Linked DNA regions of Homo sapiens. The protein of the gene in region 3 interacts with the protein of the main gene of each other region in a pairwise test. Each region holds a gene or a part of one and is shown on either strand. Other genes may lie near its edges.

Region 1 (7,023 bases), on a different chromosome or scaffold from region 3:
CTGGAACCTTATTATATCAATCAGTTCTTAAAATAATCTACATATAGGGTGGTCTTGGTGAACTCTTTTATTTAAAAAATGATTTAAGGATATTTGGGGTTTTTTGTGCGTTTTTCTGGTTTTCTGTTTGTTTTGGAGACAGGGTATCTCTCTGTCACGCGGGCTGGAGTGGAGTGGCACAATCAAGGCCACAACTTCGACTCCCTGGGTTCAAATGATCCTCTCACAAGGTATTTGTTGTGATATGATTTGATGTAAAGAGACAAGCTCTAAATCTTGTCTGTGGCTAAAAAGATGTCAGTCCTTTCCACATTATACATAAAATTATCCTTATTGTTACATCTACAGTCCGTAATTTGGAGGCTTGTTGCCATCGCAGCTCTGCCTCTTGGATATTATTCCAAAGATGGCTTTGTTCAAATAAAGACACTGTCCCCGACTGTATTAACAGTAATGATATAATATTACCTGTGTACTACCTCCACACAAGTATTTAGCACCTCATAGTTCCAAAGCTCATTCACTCAGACAATGATCATCAATGGATGCTAAAACCTTATGAAAAAGGCCAATGGTGACAATGGAAAGATGAGCCTGCCACCATTTGAACCCAATGATCAAGCTTGACATCAGTAAAAGATTATGTACCACCTATGTTATACTACAGGAATTACCCAGCCATCGTCTACGAAGTATCCTTGTTAAATGTAGGGAAGAGAGGAATTAACTAAGTGTCAATATGCCAGGAAGCAATTACACAAATCAAAGACATTTTACAAAACTAGCCCCAGTTTCTCCAGCAAGTCAATGGCATGGAAAAAATCAGCCAAGTTGAGAAAATGACAACGTTCTTCATTAAAAGAAACCAAGATTCATAATAAGCAAATGCAAGGATTGAACTTCGTGTTGACCTGACTTGAAAAACCAACTGTAAAAGCAAATGTATGTACATATTTTAATTCAGTTGGAAAATATACGAATGTGAGAAGAGTATCTGATAAAATTAACAAACTAATTTTAATTTTGTTGGGTGTGATCATATTTTGGTTTTAAAGGAACATGTCATTTTCTAGAGCTGCATGTTTCAGGGGAAGGATATACAGGGGCTCATCATAAAATTTTATCTATTTTTGTATTATGTTTAAAACTTTCAGAATAAGGTTTTTCTAAAAGTTCATTCCTTAATTCAATAAACATTTCCAGACTTATCTACCACACAACAAGCACAGTTTTACGGAAATAAAGATGAAGATGTTATCTGGGGTAAGGAACCGATGGTATCATCTGAACATCAAAACTACCCTGAGTACGGTGGGGGCAAATAGTATTAACCCCTTTTTAGAGATGAGAACGCTGAGAATTAGGTTAGGTGACATTCCCAGAACTCAGGAAGAATGATGAGTAGCAACTAGAACTCTGGTCCTTAAACCCTTTGTTCTGATCTAGTCTTCCAAGCTACAGTTCTTCACTCCCAAAATATTATTTCGGCATCTAAAATTGTTTTTGACTAGGTAGTATATAATTGTCATATTTCAAATAAGTTGGCAAACACACATTGGTATCCTCTCAGAAAGGGCTGTGTAGAAAGAAAGGAAAAAACACTCTCCAGGCCGGAGGCCATGGTCCAATCTTTTTAACTATGTTATCTTTGATGACCATGTCTCAATTCCATTGAACACACCTAACAAAATCTCAAGCCTAGAACATCTCAAAATGTGGTCCACAGAGGCTCTTTCAGAGGTTTTGCAAGGTCAAATTTATTTTCATGATATACTAAGACATTATGTGCCCCGTTTTCATTGTGCTCAGATTTGCACTGACAGTCCAAAAGCAACATGGGGGGAGGATTTGGGAAGGGGGACTACTGGCATCAGCAAAAATAAAGGCAAGGCCTTCAAACTGTATTCTTCACCAACATGCACTTACAAAAAAATAAAAAGTCTAGTTTCTCTTAAGAATGTCCTTGACGAAGTATAATTAGCATAATTTTCCTAAATCTCAACCTTTGAGTACACAGCCTTTTAATAATCAGCATGAAAAAATAAAATGTATAAAGCACTTTTGTTACATACTAAAGTAGAATGGTTTCCTCAAAGAAAAGCACTTGTGCAATTGTTTGATTAGTCAGATTTGGGTGTTTGGTAGACATTTTCTCAGAACTGAACAAAACAAGCTTAAAGCTAAAAGAAAACAATGATAGTATTTACCACCGATGATAAAATTCCAGCTGTCAAGTGAGAACTGGAAAAGTGGAAAACTTGTACCCACCACCAGGAGCTTAATAGCTTCCCAATACTTGAAGCCTTTTCCAATGAAATCAGTGGTGATATTAATGAGATTTTTTAATATTATCTAATCAAAAATGTCAACATTAAGAAGATCTGCATAATTCACTGAACCATGACATTACAAAATCAAGATGTTACAAAATCACATCTAGGTAAAAAGATCCATTCAAAGAGCAAAATAGAACAGGCTTTAATGTATGAAAAGTTCATTGAAATGATTTCAGAATCCACATTGCAACTGATCTTTAAGAAACCAATTGTCTAGTTTTGGTGTAGTATCAAGAAGAATATCCACAATTATCTGAAAAGGCTATTAAGATACTCCTTTTTCTAACTACTTATCTGTGGATGAATTTTCTTCGTGTACTTGAAAACAACATACAGCAACAGACTGGAGAGAGAAATAGAATCCAACTACTATGCCAGAGGTTTCTAAAACAATGTCACTTTTCTCACTGAAGTGTTTGTTTTCGCAAATATAGTCTTTTCATAAAAATATCTGTTAGCATACTATGGGTTTATTATTGCATTTCTACATGGAATATACATTTTGTAATTTCCTGGCTTTAATTTCTAATACGGTAATTATCAATAAATGTGTCCTATGTAAATAAAAGCTCTCTGGGTCTATCAATAATTGAGAATGAGACCTGAGACCAGTAAGTTTAAGTCCACTTGGCGTTCTCCATGCCTATAGCATGCGCAAAACAATGCTGGCAAAAACCACTGGGGCCTCAACATTGCCTATTGGTCCTGGGGTATTTACCCATTTCATTTTCTTTCCTATTGTCTACACTGACCATTCCACTGTCTCCATTCTCACGAATTTCCCATCCTTTCATTCTCCCCTCATTTTCAGCAGATGACTAAACCATCTCATTTTATGGAAGCAACCAGTCAGGAACTCCTCCAAATTCCTCCCAACTCCAGTCATGAGCTGGATCTTCATTGGTCCTTTCATTTCACAGTGAAACAGAGAACCCTCCTCTGTCTGTCTAGGGCAAATCCCTTGCCAATTACTCCAGACCTCAATTCCTCAGGGACTTCTCACCATCAATGCTGTTTTCTCCTTCGCATATTCATCCTTCCCCTCTCTACTGGCTCTTGACAATTATAATTTAAGTATGCTCAAGACTCTGCCCTGGGTATCATTTACAGCAGAACCACATTAAACTGTTTAATCTAATCCGTGTCCACTTCCTTACCCCCAATTCTCTTTGCAGCCCCACAGCATGTGGACATCCATTCTGTTTCACTGAAAAAACCTCCTTGGGGTCATAAATAATGTCTAAGATACAAATCCAAAGAGACTTCTCTGACTGATCTCATCCAGTCTTCGATTTAACTGCTCATTCCTTCCTTCCTTCAGTAACTTTCTCCTCTTAGCTGACAGATTCTTCTTATGTCTTCCTCACTTACTGGTTTGCTTAGATTTTCTATTTCTTGTATTTTTTTGTACTTTTTAGCCATTTACTTCACTTAGATTTTCCAATGTATTAGAACTAGTATACAGTTTTCCTTACTAATTTTATTTTCCAATGTCTCCCATGTTGGTTCCTGCCATTCCTTCCATTGGTCCTTCATTTCAGAATGTTTTGTATAATGTGGGGTAGGGGTTGTTGCTTATTATTTCCGTATGGATATCCAGTTGTTCAGCATCATTTACTGAAAATATCTTTCCTTCCATTTGGTTTTAGTGTATTTGTCAAAAATCAATAATTGTGTAAGGGTGGCTCCGTTCTGGGTGCTCTGTTATACTCTAGTGGTGTTAGCTGTTGCTCTTTATGCCAGCGCTATGCTGTTTTGATTATTGTAGCATTGTTACTGCAGCACAGCATAGTATCTTGCATATAGGAAAGATGCAGTAAATACTGGAAGGAAAAAAAGCTAAAATTCTGCACATAGCTCATCCTCATAACTACAACTAGTAAAACTACTAATTACTCCCCATTGAGTTTCTAGAGCAGCCTGGTTTTCCACACGAGGTTTTGCATTAAATGAAAACTCACCAATTCTAGGCTCCAAAACACTGGTGTTCTAGCAATGCAGACACATTTACCTCAGGGTGGTTACACCAGGCAGGGCACTTTAGGACAGGTGGTAAGAGGATATCTTAGTCACTTCTCTGCAATTTGAGAAAGAGGCACTCACAAGCTAAGTACTGATTATTTCAACTATCACAGATTAACCACAAAAAGCTGGGACACCACTTGAAATGACCAAAGATGAGGTGGCTCTTCTTTCTGCAAGAGCAACACCACACAGACAACTGTTTTCCAGCTACAGATGCGGTAATGACAACAATCTACTGATCCCTGACCCGTGTTTTCTAAAAAATTAAAACAAAGGGACTTGCTCTTCCCCATCTTGTAAGATGGTGGGTGAAAAAGTTGAGAAGCCGGATACTAAAGAGAAGAAACCCAAAGCCAAGAAGGCTGAGGCTGGTGACAAGGTGAAAAAGGGTCACCTCAAGGCTAAGAAGCCCAAGAAGGGGAAGCCCCATTGCAGCACAACCCTGTCCTTGTCAGAGGAATTGGCAGGTATTCCCGATGTGCTATGTATTCCAGAAAAGCTGTGTATAAGAGGAAGTACTCAGCCGCTAAGTACGAGGTTGAAAAGAAAAAGAAGGTTCTTGCAACTGTTACAAAACCAGTTGGTGGTGACAAGAATGGTAGTACCCAGGTGGTTAAACTTCATAAAATGCCTAGATATTTTCCTACTGAAGATGTGCCTCAAAAGCTGTTGAGCCATGGCAAAAAAAAAAAAAAACCCTCAGTTGACACGTGAGAAAACTGCGAACCAGCATTACCCCGGGGAACGTTCTGATCATCCTCACTGGATTCCACAGAGGCAAGAGGGCGGTCTTCCTGAAGCACCTGGCTAGTGGCTTGTTACTTGTGACTGGACCTCTGGTCCTCAATCGAGTTCCTCTATGAAGAAAACACCAGAAATCTGTCATTGCCACCTCAACCAAAATTGTTATCAGCGATGTAAAAATCCCAAAACATCCCACTGATGCTTATTCAAGCAGCAGCAGCTGCAGAAGCCCAGACACCAGGAAGCTGAGATCTTCAGCACAGAAAAAGATAAATACAAGATTACAGAGCAGCACAAGATTGATCAGAAAGCTGTGGAGTCACAAATTTTACCAAAAATCAAAGCTATTCCTAAGCTCCAGGACTACCTGCGATCTGTGTTTGCCCCGACTCATGGAATTTATCCTCACAAATTGGTGTTCTACATTTCTTAAGAAGAACCTAATTAAATAACTGATAACAAAAAAGGAGGACTGAATAAAACATGATAAAATCATTTGTGGTTGTAAGAATTATTTCATAAAACTTTTTTCACATACATATCAGATCAATATATAAAAATGTATTGCTATGAACGGGGCAGTGAAAAAGTCTGTAAGTTACTGACAGACACTGTGATGCAGAAAGATGAAAAATATAAAGCAACTATTCTGCATGAAATGATAGAGCTGCAGATCTAAAGACTGTCTTCCCATGGATACAACAGAAAAGACGCCTAGTTGTGTATGTTCCCTTACATCATGCAAGAGCACTCACCCTCAAGTTGGTCTAAGACTTGAGATCTATCCCGGCTGGCCACAGGAATATGAGAACATCGTGTAACCCTCTAAGCCTCAATTTCATCATCCATGAAAACAGCATTGCCTTGTGCACTAATTAACCGTTGTAAAGCTCAAATCAGATAGCATATAGCACTTTGAAAAATATAAATCATGTTAGTCTAATAATTTTCCAGTGCTTTGTTACATTAGCCCTATCAAAACTAGTTCTATGTTTGTAAGGTGAATAAATATCCATTCTATCTGTACAGGTTAACAGATCAGGCTCTGAAGTAGGAACAGACCAGGGTTCAAATCCAGGCTCTATCTCTTGCTAGCTGCATAATCCTATAGTCATGTAACTTCTCTTAGCTTCCAGTTTCCTCATCTGTAAATGGGAACAATGGCAACTTGTTGTACAAGTTAGAAAACACATATTGCATGATGCCTAACATTACTGCTAATATAAACTATGAATGTCAGTATTTTTTTTTTTTTTTTTTGAGATGGAGTCTCGCTCTGTCGCCCAGGCTGCAGTGCAGTGGCACAATATCAGCTCACTGCAAGCCCCGCCTCCCGGGTTCACGCCATTCTCCTGCCTCAGCCTCCTGAGTAGCTGGGACTACAGGCACCTGCCACCATGCCCAGCTAATATATATATATATATATATTTTTTTTTTTTGTATTTTCAGTAGAGATGGGGTTTCACCGTGTTAGCCAGGATGGTCTCAATCTCGTGATCTGCCCACCCCAGGCTCCCAAAGTGCTGGGATTACAGGCGTGAGCCACCGCGCCCGGCCGAATGTCAGTATTTTAATTCCCATTTCATGTACGCCCTTTGTTGGTCTGAACTGCTCTGTGATTGAAAAAATCAATCTTATCTTCTGGCTGGAATTATGTGATAATTCAATCAACTACCAAATTAAAAAATGAAAGACACCCAGGAAAAGTTTATATATTATAAATTATAAATGACCCTGAAGAATCTAAAGTTTTTTTTTTAATGATCATTTTTGTAGATTGGTGCATTTCAATGACGAAGAACATGATTATGCAAATATTCATGTTGTGAACCTTGAGGGTGGGCTGAATATTTTGTGATTCACTTTTCCCTTTAAAGCACTTAGATTTCAACACCCTGGCCCTTCCTAACATCCACTA
Region 2 (7,322 bases), on a different chromosome or scaffold from region 3:
TGCTGCACAGCCTGGGCCACTGAGGGCAGAAGGGGATCGGGAGGGCCAGGGCCTCGCGGGGTCCCACAGGCAGGCTCAGGACTGCTGCTACGGCTGTCAATGCTCAGGGAACTGCTGGCATAGCCGTTGTCCTCCAGAGGGGAGCAGACTGTGCCAGCACCACCCATCTTCTCAGGCTCAGCCCCGGGAATCTCTGCCCCCTCTGGGGGGCTGCGCACCCCTTCCTCAGGGGATCCAGGGGCCTGGAAGGCTTGGTTGTCAGAGGGTGACTCAGAGGAGCTCCTCCTCAGGATAGGTTCCACTCTGCCTGGCATCCCATGCCAATTCTCGTTAGCATCCTTGGCACTTGCCATGAAGTTGGAGTTGCTGTCTGGTTGGAGCTCGGGCTGACATAATCCAGGAGGTGGGTCCCCCAGGAATTGGCCCCCCTCAGCTAGCCCTGGCTGGATGGCGAACATCTAGCCTGTAAAGGGAAAGCAGGAGACCGAGTCACAGTAGGACAGGGTGGGGTGCCTGAAGTCAGGGCAACTTAGCTGCAGGGACAAGGCTGCAAGCAAGAGCCTGGCCACTCCCTGTCAAGCCCTTTCTCTTGACTCTGGTAACACTTCCCTTCGTGGTTTTCGTCCTCCCTGTCTACCTGTTCATTCTCAGTCTCCTGCAAAGGGTTTTTCCTCCGTCCTCAGAGCCAGGCTGTCTTCTGATTTTGTGCATTTCTCTCCAGAGGACCTCATTCTCTGCTGTAGCTTCAAAGACCATCATATGCTGGTGACTCTCAGATCTGTCTTCAGCCCAGATCCAACTGCTATCCAACCCTGCAACCAACCATAGTCTCCTCAAATTCTACATAACCAGTCCAGGCATGGTGGCTCATACCTGTAATCCCAGCACTTTGGGAGGCCGAGGCAGGCAGATCACCTGAGGTCAGGAGTTCGAGACTAGACTGGCCAACATGGTGAAACCCCATCTCTACTAAAAATACAAAAATTAGCCAGGCATGGTGACAGGCACCTGTAATCCCAGCTATTTGGGAGGCTGAGGCAGGGGAATCACTTGAACCCAGGAGGCAGAGGTTTCAGTGAGCCGAGATTGCGCCACTGCACTCCAGCCTGGGTGACAGAGTGACATCATCCCCCTCCACCACCGCCCCCCGCCAAAATTCTACATAACCAAACAAGCTCTCCTTCAGTATCCTCAGCAAGATGGCTCTGTACTCCATCCAGAAAGCTGAGAGCATCCTGGGGTCCTCACTATCCTTCCTTCTCCCATCTCATTAATAACCACATTCTGACCATTCTTCCTCTTCCAGGCCATTTCTGACCTGGATTATTGCCTCGGCCTTTTCACTGATCTCTCTGCCTCCAGTTAAAAATGTAAATTTCACTTGTCACCACTCCTAATGCCCTCCCTGAATTCCTGCTAAACCTCTACCTGGCCTACAACACCCTGTTTGATCTGGCCCCTGCTCACCCCTCCATACCTGCCTCTTGCCACTCTGCCCCTCCCATCATAGCAAACTGCCCAGAGATCTCAAAACACACCATTGTTTTTCTTACAGTATTCCTTTGGCCTACAATATCCTTCCTCTCCCCTCCCCTCAAAGCTCCTCCCTTCTCCACCCAGCAAATTCCTTTTTGTACTTCAAAATTAGCTGTAATATCCCCATGTTTCCATGTCCCCATGTCTCTGAAGCCGTCTTGATACTGCCCCAATCAATATTACATAAACAAGCACGGTTAGTTATGCCTTCCTCTGGGTCCCCACTGCGCTGGGTATACACTGTCTTATCCAACTTTGCATCCGTCCCTGGCATACATGGTCGACGATCAGTGAATGTCTATTCAACTGGCATTTTTGGTTTGTGGTAATGATCTTGTAATAGCAGTTTGTAATCTGGCTTGGACCTCCTGTATATATCCTCCATCATATTCCCCAGAGTCAGCCAGCATAGAGCCCTGAACCAGGCTGTCTGTGCATACAGGTACTTGCTAAGTGAGTGAATGGGAGAAGAGACTGCAGTGAATTTCCATGCTCAGGAATCCACTCTTGACTCCCCAGGGCTGGAAGAGCTGGGTTCTGGAAGAGCTGGGTTTGGTTCCCTTTCCTACCCCAGCCAGGGAGCCCCGCCTTCCCCAGTGACAAGCTTTTCTTCTGAGCCTGCCCCCTTCCCTCCCAATGCCTCTGGAACACAGCCACTATCTTGCGGTCCCCGTCCCTAGCTTGCTCCATTCTGAGGCCCTGGAGGGAGGGCATACCACACCACTCTTCTCTCCTCCATAACCTGCTTCTAACCAAAATTAGGATTTGAACTGACAAAGGGATTCTACTGACCAAACAGCACTGGGATTAGAACAATTGAAGAGCATGAAGAGGAAGGGTATTGTAAGTGGAGCCGGCACTGGAAGGCGCTCCATAGGTGGCATGGACCCTCCCCACCCCCAGCAATGGGCAGAGAAGTCCTGGGGAGAAGGGTGTAGGAACAGTTCGTTTCTAATCGCCCTCTAAGCAAGGCTTGTGGGAAGGTGCCTAGAGATCTCCCCTCGCCCCAATTTTTTATTTTTCCTATACTTGGATGGGGCCGTGAAGGAAGCTGGGATGGGGTGGGGGTGGCGCTAGGGATCACAGGGTTCTCAGAGATAGTAAAATGAGAACCCCGACACGCCAGGACTAGGTCTCCGCCCAAACAGGAGGCAGCCTCCTTTTCTGGCCTTGCGGGAGTGGGAGACCACCCCAGGAGACAGAGACCATCCTTCCCTAGTCTCCTCGAAGGAGGCCACTGTGACTCCCCGCTTCCCGCGGCTGAGCCCCAAGCCCCACCCCGCCTCGGGCCCCAGACTCGGACTCACGGCGTAGAGGCGCCCGCTCCGGCGCGTCTGGCTCTGGCTCCGCCCGGCCCTGGTGGTGTCTAGTCCCTGGGCTGGGGGTTCCTCGGCCTGGGCGTCTCCGCGGTCCAGGCGTGGGTGCGGGGCTCCCGGGCAGCGCGCCCAGCCCCAGTCCCGGACTGCGGAGTCAGGCGGCGTCTGCGCAGCAGGGCGGAGCGACCGGTCCCACGTGGGCCGGTTCGGTTTTCCGCGGAGCCCCGCGCCAGGCCCCTGCGCCGGAACCGCTTCGCCCCCGCGCGGGGCCGCGTTGACCCAGGCCTTCCAGGTCCGGTGCTCTCTCCTATTGGCATTCGCTGGGCCCTTCCCATCAGTTAGCCTCGCTGCAGACACCGTGCCATTTTCAAGTGAAATCTGATTAGTCACCACCTTCCGGCGTTAAACTCCTCAATGGCTTCCCCACCGCCGGGACAACCCCTAAGGCGGTAGCCGCGGGGCTCTGTGCGTCCTGCCCTTCGTCTGCCTCTCCGGCTTCGTCCTCTACCCTCCCTCTCCGCAGTTACCCTCCCACACGCCCCTTTCCGCCACGCGGCTTTGGCACGCACTGTTCCCTCGGTCTAGCATTCTCTTCCCCCTCTCGACTTACTCCTATTTCAGATCTCTTCTCGGAGAGATCTCTGACTCCCTAGATCACGTTCGTTCCCCCCTTTATGTCAGAGCACATTCCTTTTCTTCATAGCATTTATCACAATTTGGAATTATATATTCCTTTTTGTGCTTACTTGACTAAAGTCACTGAGGCCGGGTGCGGTGGCTCACGCCTGTAACCCCAGCACTTTGGGAGGCCGAGGCGGGCAGATAACCTGAGGTCAGGAGTTTGAGACCAGCCTGGCCAACATGGTGAAACCCCATCTCTACTAAAAATACAAAAATTAGCCGGGCTTGGTGGCGGGCGCCTGTAATCCCAGCTACTTGGGAGGCTGAGGCAGGAGAATCGCTTGAACCTGGGAGGTGGAGGTTGCAGTGAGCCAAGACTGCACCACTGCACTCCAGTCTGGGCAACAGAGTGGGACTCCGTCTCAAAAAAAAAAAAAAAAAAAAAAAAAAAAAGAGAGAGAGAGAAAGAAGATCCAAGCCTGGGACAGGGCTCAGGGCTGATGTCCTGTACCCGGGACGGGGGCTCTCCGCAGGACACAGAGCCCACCCATGATGCCTGTGAAGTGGGTACCAGTGCTTTTGCCCAGGTGAGGAGGAACAGCGTGATAAAAAAGGGTCTTGGGTTCCAAACTCCAGTGGATTCTTCTCAGAGCTCCACTCTACTGAAGCTTGACCCCCCTCACTCTTTTGCACCCTGGGGAAATGTGAAGTTGGGGGCCCTGTTTGGAATAAAAGAGAACAGAGTTCAGTAATTGCTGACCCTAATATATGAGGTGCCCTCTTCCAGTTTCAATTTGATTCCAAGTCACCATTCTGCAACCTAGAGACTAATTGGCAAATTAAATCACACCAAGAAATCCTATATGCAAAAACAGGGAAAATGGAAAAGAAATTTTTATGATTATGATGACTATTTTAAAAGGGAAAAGGAAATAAGAAGGAGAAGGCAGAAGTAATTCAAACTTTGCACACTCCTCCAGCTAAGAAAATACAGGTGGAGACGTCAGCCCCATTTCTACATCAGATCCTGTGGCCTAAGTCTTCTCCCTTCCCTTATCCACTTCAGGTTCCCCTGGCCTTCAGCCTGGGGTGACCCAAATCCTCACTTTTTTTTTTTTTTTTTTTTTTTTTGAGATGGAGTCTCGCTCTGTCGCCTAGGCTGGAGTGCAGTGGCGCAATCTCGGCTCACCGCAACCTCCACCTCCCGGGTTCAAGCGATTCTCCTGCCTCAGCCTCCTGAGTAGCTGGGATTACAGGTGCATGCATCACGTCAGCTAATTTTTGTATTTTTAGTAGAGATGGGGTTTCACCATGTTGGTCAGGTTGGTCTTGATCTCCTGACCTTGTGATCCACCCACCTCGGCCTCCCAAAGTGCTGGGATTACAGGCGTGAGCCACCATGCCTGGCCCAAATCCTCACTCCTAAAGGCTCTCAGCTTTGGTGATCTAGGGTTATGCAGTTCTGCCCAGACCACAGAGCCATAAAGTCATCAATTGTTTGTTCTGCCCAGAATAGCCCTTCTCCGCCTCTCTTTGGACTCTGTCTCTCCCAGCTTAACCATGTGGGTCAAATGAAAGCCTGAAGAATCCAGGGATAGGAGCTCCACTCCAGGTGAGCCAGTCAGAGTCCTTCTCTGGGATCTTCTGAAACGAAATTAAAGGAAGACGAGGCAGGGAAGAAACAGAGATGAGAGATAGTTCTGATAATGTTGCAGACCCTGTTTCCTGCATCTAAACTTATAGTTTTGTATGCCTTATTTTGCCAAGCCTAACTTGAGTGGAATTTCTTTCACCGACAATTGAAAGAATGCTGATTACTACAATAGCACAAGGTGGTGACCCCAGGGTCTCTGGGTTCCATTCACGCACCTCTCAACACTTATTAGGTAACAGTAACTCCCTTTCTCCTTGGTAGCCATGATCAGTCCAGTCTACACTGAGACCACCCCCTTCTCCTATTCCTCTAGTGCTACCAGGAGCCGAAATCCCAGGGAATCATCTTTGTGTTTCTTGGTTAGAAGAAACATTCCTCCCATGATGCTATCACCATGTTTTGTTTTGTTTTTTTCCCAAGACAGAGTTTCACTGTCACCCAGGCTGGAGTGCAGTGGCGCGATCTCAGCTCACTGCAACCTCCGCCTCCCAGGTTCAAGTCATTCTCCTGCCTCAGCCTCCCGAGTAGCTGGGGTTACAGGCGCGTGCCACCACACCCGGCTAATTTTTGTATTTTTAGTAGAGACAGGGTTTCACCATGTTGGTCAGGCTGATTTCAAATTCCTGACCTCAAATGATCTGCCCGCCTTGACCTCCCAAAGTGCTGGGATTACAGGTGTGAGCCACTGTGCCTGGCCGATGCTATCACCTTCTGACCTGCAATACCCAGAATCTCAGAGACAGGAAGAAAACTCTTAGTCCTTAGGTAAATCATATAAGGTGCCACAACCACCGCTACCTCTTCTTGTTATGCATTCTGGCCACAAAGGACAAAGCATTATATACATTGATTTAAAGCCTATATTGGGCCTGGTGTGGTGGCTCACACCTGTAATCCCAGCACTTTGGGAGGCCGAGGCAGGCGGATCACTTGAGGCTGGGAATTCGAGACAAGCTTGGCCAACATGATGAAACCCCGTTTCTACTAAAAATACAAAAATTAGACAGGCATGGTGGTGCGCGTCTGTAATCCCAGCTATTCAGGAGGCTGAAGCAGGAGAATCGCTTGAACCCAAGAGGCAGAGATTGCAGTGAGCCAAGATCGTGCCACTGCACTCCAGCCTGGGCGATAGAGTAAGACCCTGTCTCAAAAAAAAAAAATTAAAATAAAATAAATAAAGCCTATATCGTGCTCTGCAGGGCAGCACCCCAGCCTGGAATAGCTGAGTCATCAATTCCATTGTTCTAAAAAGCTAGTTATTCCTTTTTTTTTTTTTTTTTTTGAGATGGAGTCTCTCTCTGTCACCCAGGCTAGAGTGCAGTGGCATAGTCTTGGCTCACTACAACCTCCACGTCCTGGGTTCAAGCAATTCTCCTGCCTCAACCTCCTGAGTAGCTGGGACTACAGGTGCCCGCCACCTGGTGAATGTTTGTATTTTTAGTAGAGGCAGGATTTCACCATGTTGACCAGGCTGGTCTCAAACTCCTGACATCAGGTGATCTGCCTGCCTTGGCCTCCCAAAGTGCTAGGATTTCAGGCGTGAGCCACCACACCTGGCCTAAAGCTAGTTATTCCTAAATAATACAATACCTGCTAAGTCAAGTGAATTCATTTAAAGGAAATCAGATTGTAGTCTCTCTCTTTCTTTTTTTTTTCCCTGAGACGGAGTCTTACTCTGTTGCCCAGGCTGGAGTACAGTGGTGCAATCTCCATTCATTGCAACGTCCGCCTCCCAGGATCAAGCGATTCTCATGCCTCAGCCTCCTGAGTAGCTGAGACTACAGGCGTGTGCCACTGCACCGGCTAATTTTTGTATTTCTAATAGAGACAGGGTTTCACTATGTTGCCCAGGCTGGTCTCAAATTCCTGGCCTCAAGTGATCTGCCCACCTCGGCCTCCCAAAGTGTTGGGATTACAGGCGTGAACCACCACACCCAGCCTGTAGCCAGTTTTGTTAATCAAGGGCAGTGTTGTATGGAATATTCTAGCACTGTATAATTAATACAGTCAGTGCTCACACAGCAGTCCTGGTCACTCCATAATTTTCAGAGCTCAAAACCTGAAGAAAAAAAAGCTCCAAATGCAGGGATGTCCATGTCCACAGGAAGACAAAAAAGCAGCTATAGAGATGCCTGTTATTCATTTGCCAGAGGCTTTTCCAGTGAGGACACCAGAGAATAATTCACCCCCAAGTG
Region 3 (7,023 bases):
GGCCTTGTTTGTGTGCTTGGAACCATGGGAATGCATCTGGGGTCCCATCCTAGGTGGTGGCTGCTGTGTTAGGGGTGTGACCTGGTATTTAGAGAGGAGCGACATTCTCGTGGCTCAGCAGTCCCATCTCCCGGGGAACACGAGCACCCGTCCCCCCGCCCACCTCCATTTGCTGTTTCAAATTGAGAAAAACCCTTCTTTGCTCAGTTCTTCCCAGAACAGCTGATGTGCTTGACACAGAAGAAAAAGAGAAAATGCAAACAGATGAGGGAAACAGCCAGGTGTCGGCACCCAAGCTCGATTGAGCCCTTAATTTTCCAGGCAGAGAGGTACCTCAGGACCAGGATATTGGTTTGCTGGGGGACTGGGGTTTGATCGTGTGTTTCTTCGTAGTTGAAGAGCTGGTCCTGATCAGACATGATTGTGAAGGTAACTCTGAGACACTGTTTCCCAAATGAGTTTGATCTGAGCATTTGCGCTGAATCACCTGGGAAAATTAAAATACACATTCCTGGGCTCCTGGCCATACTCACTGGCTAGAATCCCTGGACTGGAGCCCAGAACTCTGCACATGTGGTCAGTCTTGTGATTCTTGGGTGCCCCAGAATTAGCAGCCATCGCTGTGAAAAAAGCTGACACTTAGATTTCCTGGGTTTTCCTGTTACTATCTTGATGAAAAACTTGCTGTTTTTCTCCTGCCGCAGAACAGATAGTATGGCTGCGCAGTTTTCAGGGCAGACTTCCCACACTGGGTCAGCTCCATCACGCGTCAGCAGTTACACCCACCTGCCCCCATGGTGGGGACCTTACTTGGGGATGTTGTCAGACGGGGCAGCTTGTCGTGATACCTCTGTTCCACACATGCCCCTCCCTCGAACTTCCCCAAATCTCAGCTAGTTTGGCTCTAGGCTGTGGGTCCCTGAGGACTATCCTGTTTCCCAGCCCCAGGACAGTCTCCCAGGATGTCACCTCTAGCACAGGCTACTGGCTCAGACCCCACCACCCGGGAGCCCTGAGCAACCCGTCATGGTCTGAGGGATACATTTAATTTCCTGCTGGTTTATAGAGAAGCCATGATTGACACCATAAAGACTCTGCCAGCCTCTCCCCTCCCAAGGCGGGAGTCGAGTTTGCTCCCTCCGCAAGGGGGAGAGCCTGGCGGAGTGTTCAAGGTTCACAAGAGACAAATTCCAGAATGCACCAAGACCGCGATGCACAGAGACCAAGCGGGTGTTGGGGCCGTGCACAGGGCACTCTGTGTGTCTTCTGGGGGAGTGTCTGTGTTTCTGTATGTCTGCCAGGAGCTTTTCAGCATCCTTTTGCATGGGAGGATTTGGTCATTCATTGAGCATTTTTGAGTCCCTACTATGTGCTGGACACAGTGCAAGGTGAGCTGTGTGTGTGTGTGTGTGTGTGTGTGTGTGTGTGTGTGTGTGTGTGTGTCTGCCTCTGCCTGTGGCTAGCTGTGCCTGTCAGGGCACGCAGGGGTGTGTATGCACATGAGTATGCACAGGAGAGGGGTGTCCAGGGCCGGGAGATGGGGCCAGGCCCAGGTCAGGATCACAGTTTCTGTCCTGTTACATCCCGACTGTCAGTGTCTCTTTAGGTCTCGCTTTTATGTGTATGTGTTGGAGGGGGGTCTTGAAACCAGGTCCCCCACCCCAGAGGGCACCAAACATTAAATGGGCCTATCATGAGGGAGGGAGGGGGACTTGGTCACTCCACAGCTTGGGCTCTACACGTGCCCGAAAGCTTCGAGCTGTTAGAGTGGGGGTGGGTCCCTGGCTCAGCCTCACTCTGGAACTGAATCTCTTGGGGAAAAGGCCTAGGCCGTGGGGTCCTAGAATGGAGCTGAATTCGAATCCCAGCTCTGCCCAGCTAGCTGCGTGGCCCTGGCTGAGTCACCTGCTTTAAGAACCTCATTTCCTCCTCTGTCAAAACAAAGGCCATGATGCAAGTTCTGTGCATGTGTGAGTCCACTGTCTTGCGTAATAAATGCCTGTGGAAGATGCTGGAAGTGGTAAGGGCCCTGAAGCCACCGCCATGGTCTGTGTGTGTTCCCATCCAAACTGCAGACAGAACCACATCAAACCCAGCCACAGCGCGGCACAGACCTGGTGTGGAAGCCCCACTCCCGCCTCTGCCCCCAACCACAAGCTCATGGCTATGGAACAAGGCAAGACCCTTCCATCTGGTGAGAGAAAGCGGGGGCCCTGGTGGGGGTACCAGCTGGGGGTCCCGAGGAGTTCTGAGAGTCCTCTGACAGGGACTGGGGAGATGAGCAAGTTTGATGCCCCTGGAGGGGCTGGATGTTTCCAGCTTCCCCCCGAAGCCCTCGTCCTGCCCACCACTGAAGTCTGTGTGTCTCTTTCTCTACCGCAGCCACGGAGGATGCAAAGGAAGAGGGTCTGGAAGCCCAGATCAGCCGCTTGGCAGAGCTGATTGGGAGGCTGGAGAGCAAAGTAAGCCCTGGCCTGACCACGGCGTCTACTCCTTCCAACCCCTGAGGGAGTGCAGAGTTAAGCCTGGAGTTCAGGACAAAAGTCTGGGCTGCAGAGGGGCCAGGGAACCATGAAAAAGACATCCCCCAGGTGGGGCGTGGAGCTGCCGAGGACGAAGCTAAGGATCAAACCCCGGGGGATGCTCGTGTTGTTCAGGCCCAAGGAGGGGCGCCTGGGAAGAGAGAGTGTTGGGGGGTCAGGCGGGCCTGCAGGCAGCAGGAGCAGCTCCAGGAGCAGAGGGTGGTCAGCAGGGTCCCGTGTTGCAAGGCCCTAGCTTCAAGGAGACTTTGCTCTGAAGTGGCTGGAGCAGATATTGGCCGAAAGGCAGCACCAGGATGAAAGAGAGACGTGATGATTCGAGAGAGTTTCAAAACAAGGAAGGAAGTGACCAGCAGTAGCAAATGTATTAAGTGTGATATGGGACGTCCACAGGTGATAGAAAATGGCACAGCCCTTACAGAAAACATTTTCAGATAATGTTTCGTGACTCGGGATAGAGTGCTCACAATATGACCATTTGGTGGAAAGAAAAGTTTGTCTTAGGGCCTACAGACAGATGGGCTCAGGTATCAGTCAGAATTCTGGTTGTGCCACTTCATAGCTGTGTGACCCTGGGCCAGGGACTTGTCCTCTCTGAGGCTTAGATTCCTCCTCTGATAATCAAGAAAATAACCTGGAGCATGGGACCCCTCCCTCATAGGGGTGTCGTTAGGATGAACCAAAATGATGTCTCCGGTTTAGCACAGGGCCCGGTGCTGTAGCTTGCATTTAATATTAGCAATGTTAGCAATTATTATGAGGCATTCTGTTACCCAAACCTATCCACATGCACACAGCACACCCGTATACCCACATAAGCCAAGGTAACTGAGCTCTCAGAACCCTGGGATTGAGGTGGTTTTATGTTTCTCCTACTTTTGTGTATTTTTTTTACACCCTTTGTAAAGGGTATTGCTACTTTTAGTTTGGGGGTTCTCAGGCATTCATGGGGGCAGGAACAAGGGGCTCCCCGCATGGAGGGAGACAGAGGCTGACGTGGAATGAAGTCCGAGGGAGGAAGCTCAAACTTCCCCTCCTGCAGGGATGAGGCTGAGGTGGAGTTACCCCCTTCCTGAAGCCAGCTGCGGGAGCGGCTCGGAGGGGACCCCGTGGCCCGGTTGTCATAACAACTCAGCGGGCGCCTCGGGAGGGAGACTCTGAAGCTTATTTTTAGAGCACCGTCGCCCTAACAACCAGGCTGGCTGGTAACCACGGAGTACCTGGGCGTCCTGGAGACGGGGTGGGACCAGGTCCTCCTCCCCAGCCTCTAACTGGCCCGGGCGGTCAGCAGGGGCCAATCCGGGCCTGGCTTCAGGCCCCGCCCTTCACCGGCCAACCGGAGCTGCCTCTGGGCTGGAAGGATGGAGGCTCTAGGGGCCCCTGGCTGGGAGAAGAATGGGGCAGATACAGGGGCCACAGTGCCTCTCCTCATCCTCCTATGGCTTTTCCAGCCCCAGGACCCCTCACGTATGCTTGTAAAACCATGGAAACAGACTTGTTCCTGCCAGGCACACCTTCACCACTTACCAAGGCGTGTTCATGCTGTGTGCCCCCAGAAGGCAGTACCCTTGCCAGGATCAGCTACTACAGAGCCCAGTGCAAAATGAGCGTGCAAGGTCCCTTGCTCAAACATTTAGAACGTCACGGTGGTGACTACACAGACTCATCCACCTGCTGCTGTTTTCCTTATTAGCTGGCGTGCTTTACCTGTGGCTGCCCTGTGTGACTCCCGTAGATGGTCTGTCCTCATGGAGGATGGACAGAGATAGCCACAGAGGTGGTTAGTGGGGTGCCCAAGCTGAAGGAAGCAGCAGCATGAGCCTGTGCGTCAGGTAGACACACTGGGTTCAGACCCACGCTCTGACACTTACATGGCTTTCGTGCCTTCAGAGCCGGGGTTCTCTGCCGTGACATAGTGACTGTTGATCTTCTGTGGGGGCTCAGCCCTGTGTGGGCACCAGTCGTGGGCGAACAGAGCAGATGTGGTTCCTGGAGACCGAAACTTACAGTGGGGCAGCACCTTCCCTGGGGAGTCTGGAAGATTGTGTATTTGTAAACCATCTAGCTTAGAGTCTGGGGAAGACCAGAGAGAACAGTTCACCCCATTAGATCCCTGAGGTGCTGGGGGTTATGATTTGGGGTGAATTATAAGTTACAGGGAATCTAAGGGCTGTTGCTCATCATAGTGGCAAACCCCAGCATCTTGGACTCAGGCCTCTGGAGTCCCCCTTGCTGCCTCTCCCAAGCCATCCTCACCCCAGCAACATGTTCTAGGCCCCCTGTAGGCCAGAGGGAGTCTCTGCCACTTCCTAGCGTTGGTCTCCCAGCCCTGTGCAACAGGGCCGGGTCCTTGGGAGCTCCCAACAGCCCCAGGGATCCCAGAGCTCCTGGCTCCCCGGGGCGGAGTGGGGCTCTGGGTCTAGCATCACTGTGTGCTGGATTGTTTCAGGCACTGTGGTTCGACCTGCAGCAGCGCCTGTCAGATGAAGATGGCACCAACATGGTGAGGCCCCTTCCCACCTCTCTTCTGGGACCACATCCCTACCCATGCCAGGACTGCCAAGATCCAAGTGGCTCAATGCCCCTGACCCCGCTCTCCCTGCTTGGGACCACCAGGAGGGGAGATGTCGCCCAGCGCTTGGCACCCAGACCCTGCCCTGGCACAGGAGCCACCCCACCAACTCCGGGGGTATTTCTTGAGGCTCCCTGGACCTTTTTTTTTTTTTTTTTTTTTTTTTTGAGATGGAGTCTTGCTGTATCTCCCAGGCTGGAGTGCAGTGGTGGGATGTCGGCTTACTGCAACCTCTGCCTCCTGGGTTCAAGCAATTCTCCTGCCTCAGCCTCCTGAGTAGCTGGGATTACAGGTGTGTGCCACCACGCCTGGCTAATTTTTTTGGTATTTTTAGTAGAGACGGACAGGGTTTCACCATGTTGGTCAGGCTGGTCTCAAACTCCTATCCTCATGATCTGCCCACCTTGGCCTCCTAAAGTGCTGAGATTACAGGCGTGAGCCACCACACCTGGCCCAGAGGCTCCTGGACTTTGATCCAAAAAAGGTTTGGCATAGAGCAAAGTGATCAGCCAGACAGTGATGTGAAAATGCTGAGTCCATCAACTATGAGTTTTTCTTGTCAGTGGATGTGCTGTGTCTCCAGGCCCTGGAGGCTGTGCAGGTGGTTGTGGACATGGATGGGGCCTCTGTAAACAACCTCGTCTGTTTTCCCCATTTTTGGGGGCTACTTCTGCACTGGGCTCTTGAGGTTCTAGTCCTTTCTTAGCCCATTTTTAGTCCATTCTTATCCATTCATGGGTAAGAATGAAAAGTGGGGGAGGGTTATTTTATTTTGACCGAGGAAGGGAGGTCATGGGGGCCTGATGGGGTGTTTAGGGAGAAGGCCTGACGTGGAGCCCCACACTGACTCCTGCTGTGCCCGGCAGCACCTGCAGCTGGTCCGGCAGGAGATGGCCGTGTGCCCCGAGCAACTGAGCGAGTTTCTGGACTCTCTGCGCCAGTATCTGCGGGGGACCACTGGCGTGAGGAACTGCTTCCAGTGAGTGAGCTGCCGAGGCGTGGGTGGGATGGTGGCAGGGAGCTCTGCCTGGCAGTGGAGGAACAGGGCAGGACTAGGCTTTGCCCTAAGTAGTACAAGTTGCACCCCAGGGACACACACAGCTGGATGCGTAAGAAGTGGGTTCAGGTCTCTACTGAGGTTCCTCCCAGCCAAGCAAATGTGGCAGGTGTCTTCATCTCCCTGGCATCAGCTTACTCATCTGTAAAGGGGGGACCACCCCCAGGACTCCTTGCTGGGGTGATCATGAGTGCATATACAATCAAGTGTGTGAATCTCAAGTGTGAAGGGCTCCAGCTGGGCCTGGTGTGCCCCGTGCGCTCAGTCAGCCTCAGCTGCTGCTGTCACAGGGGTTCCTGCACACTTAAGTCCAGGCCCAGAATGTAGTATTTGCTCAGTTAACCACTGAGGAAGGAGAGGAGAGTCGGTAGCTGAAGGGAAATGCCCAAGTCATGTAGTTGCCCTTCTCCCCCTGATGTGCTGAGATGTCCAGGGCGGGGCAAGCGGCCTTACCTTCAAATTCCTGTTCATCCCACCAGGCTGATGTAGCTCCTTGGTAAAGCTAAGGCATGTGGCCAGGGCCAGAGTGGAGGGGGTTGCAGAAGACAACAGCCCTTTGTTCTTGCTGGTAGTGGTCCCCCGCCCCCCGTTTCTGCAGCAAGGCTCTGCCCAACTCCCTTCCCAGGGCTTTCTTCCATCCCCAGAGCACACACTCATTCACCCCATTGCCTGGGGACATGGCTGTGAACCAGGCAGGCCAGGTCCTAGCACAGGGTCTTTGAGAGGGGTCTTCTTGGGCCCCCTGTGCACTGAGGCTTGAGTGACAACAGCCTGACCTGTAGCACGAGGGGAGGAGTAGCCTGGGCAGGAGTGCGGCCGTTCCCGAGACTCGGCGTGGCCACGAGGGGCCATTC

What was found.
Region 1: the proteins of NECAB2 (region 3) and PRPF18 interact in binary tests that used the Homo sapiens proteins (3 or more experiments, as listed by UniProt).
Region 2: the proteins of NECAB2 (region 3) and C1orf216 interact in binary tests that used the Homo sapiens proteins (3 or more experiments, as listed by UniProt).

What each region holds. Positions count from the first base shown.
Region 1 is NC_000010.11:13,589,963-13,596,985, reverse strand, and holds part of PRPF18 (pre-mRNA-splicing factor 18), read right to left. Parts: intron 5,219-7,023; exon of another isoform or gene 5,119-5,218; coding exon of another isoform or gene 5,098-5,118; intron 1-5,097.
Region 2 is NC_000001.11:35,715,864-35,723,185, forward strand, and holds the start of C1orf216 (UPF0500 protein C1orf216), read right to left. Parts: upstream 3,022-7,322; 5' UTR 2,844-3,021; intron 1,049-2,843; exon of another isoform or gene 638-1,048; intron 464-637; 5' UTR 459-463; coding exon 1-458.
Region 3 is NC_000016.10:83,992,227-83,999,249, forward strand, and holds part of NECAB2 (N-terminal EF-hand calcium-binding protein 2), read left to right. Parts: intron 1-2,075; coding exon 2,076-2,194; intron 2,195-2,382; coding exon 2,383-2,462; intron 2,463-4,989; coding exon 4,990-5,043; intron 5,044-5,978; coding exon 5,979-6,091; intron 6,092-7,023. UniProt on the Homo sapiens protein: May act as a signaling scaffold protein that senses intracellular calcium.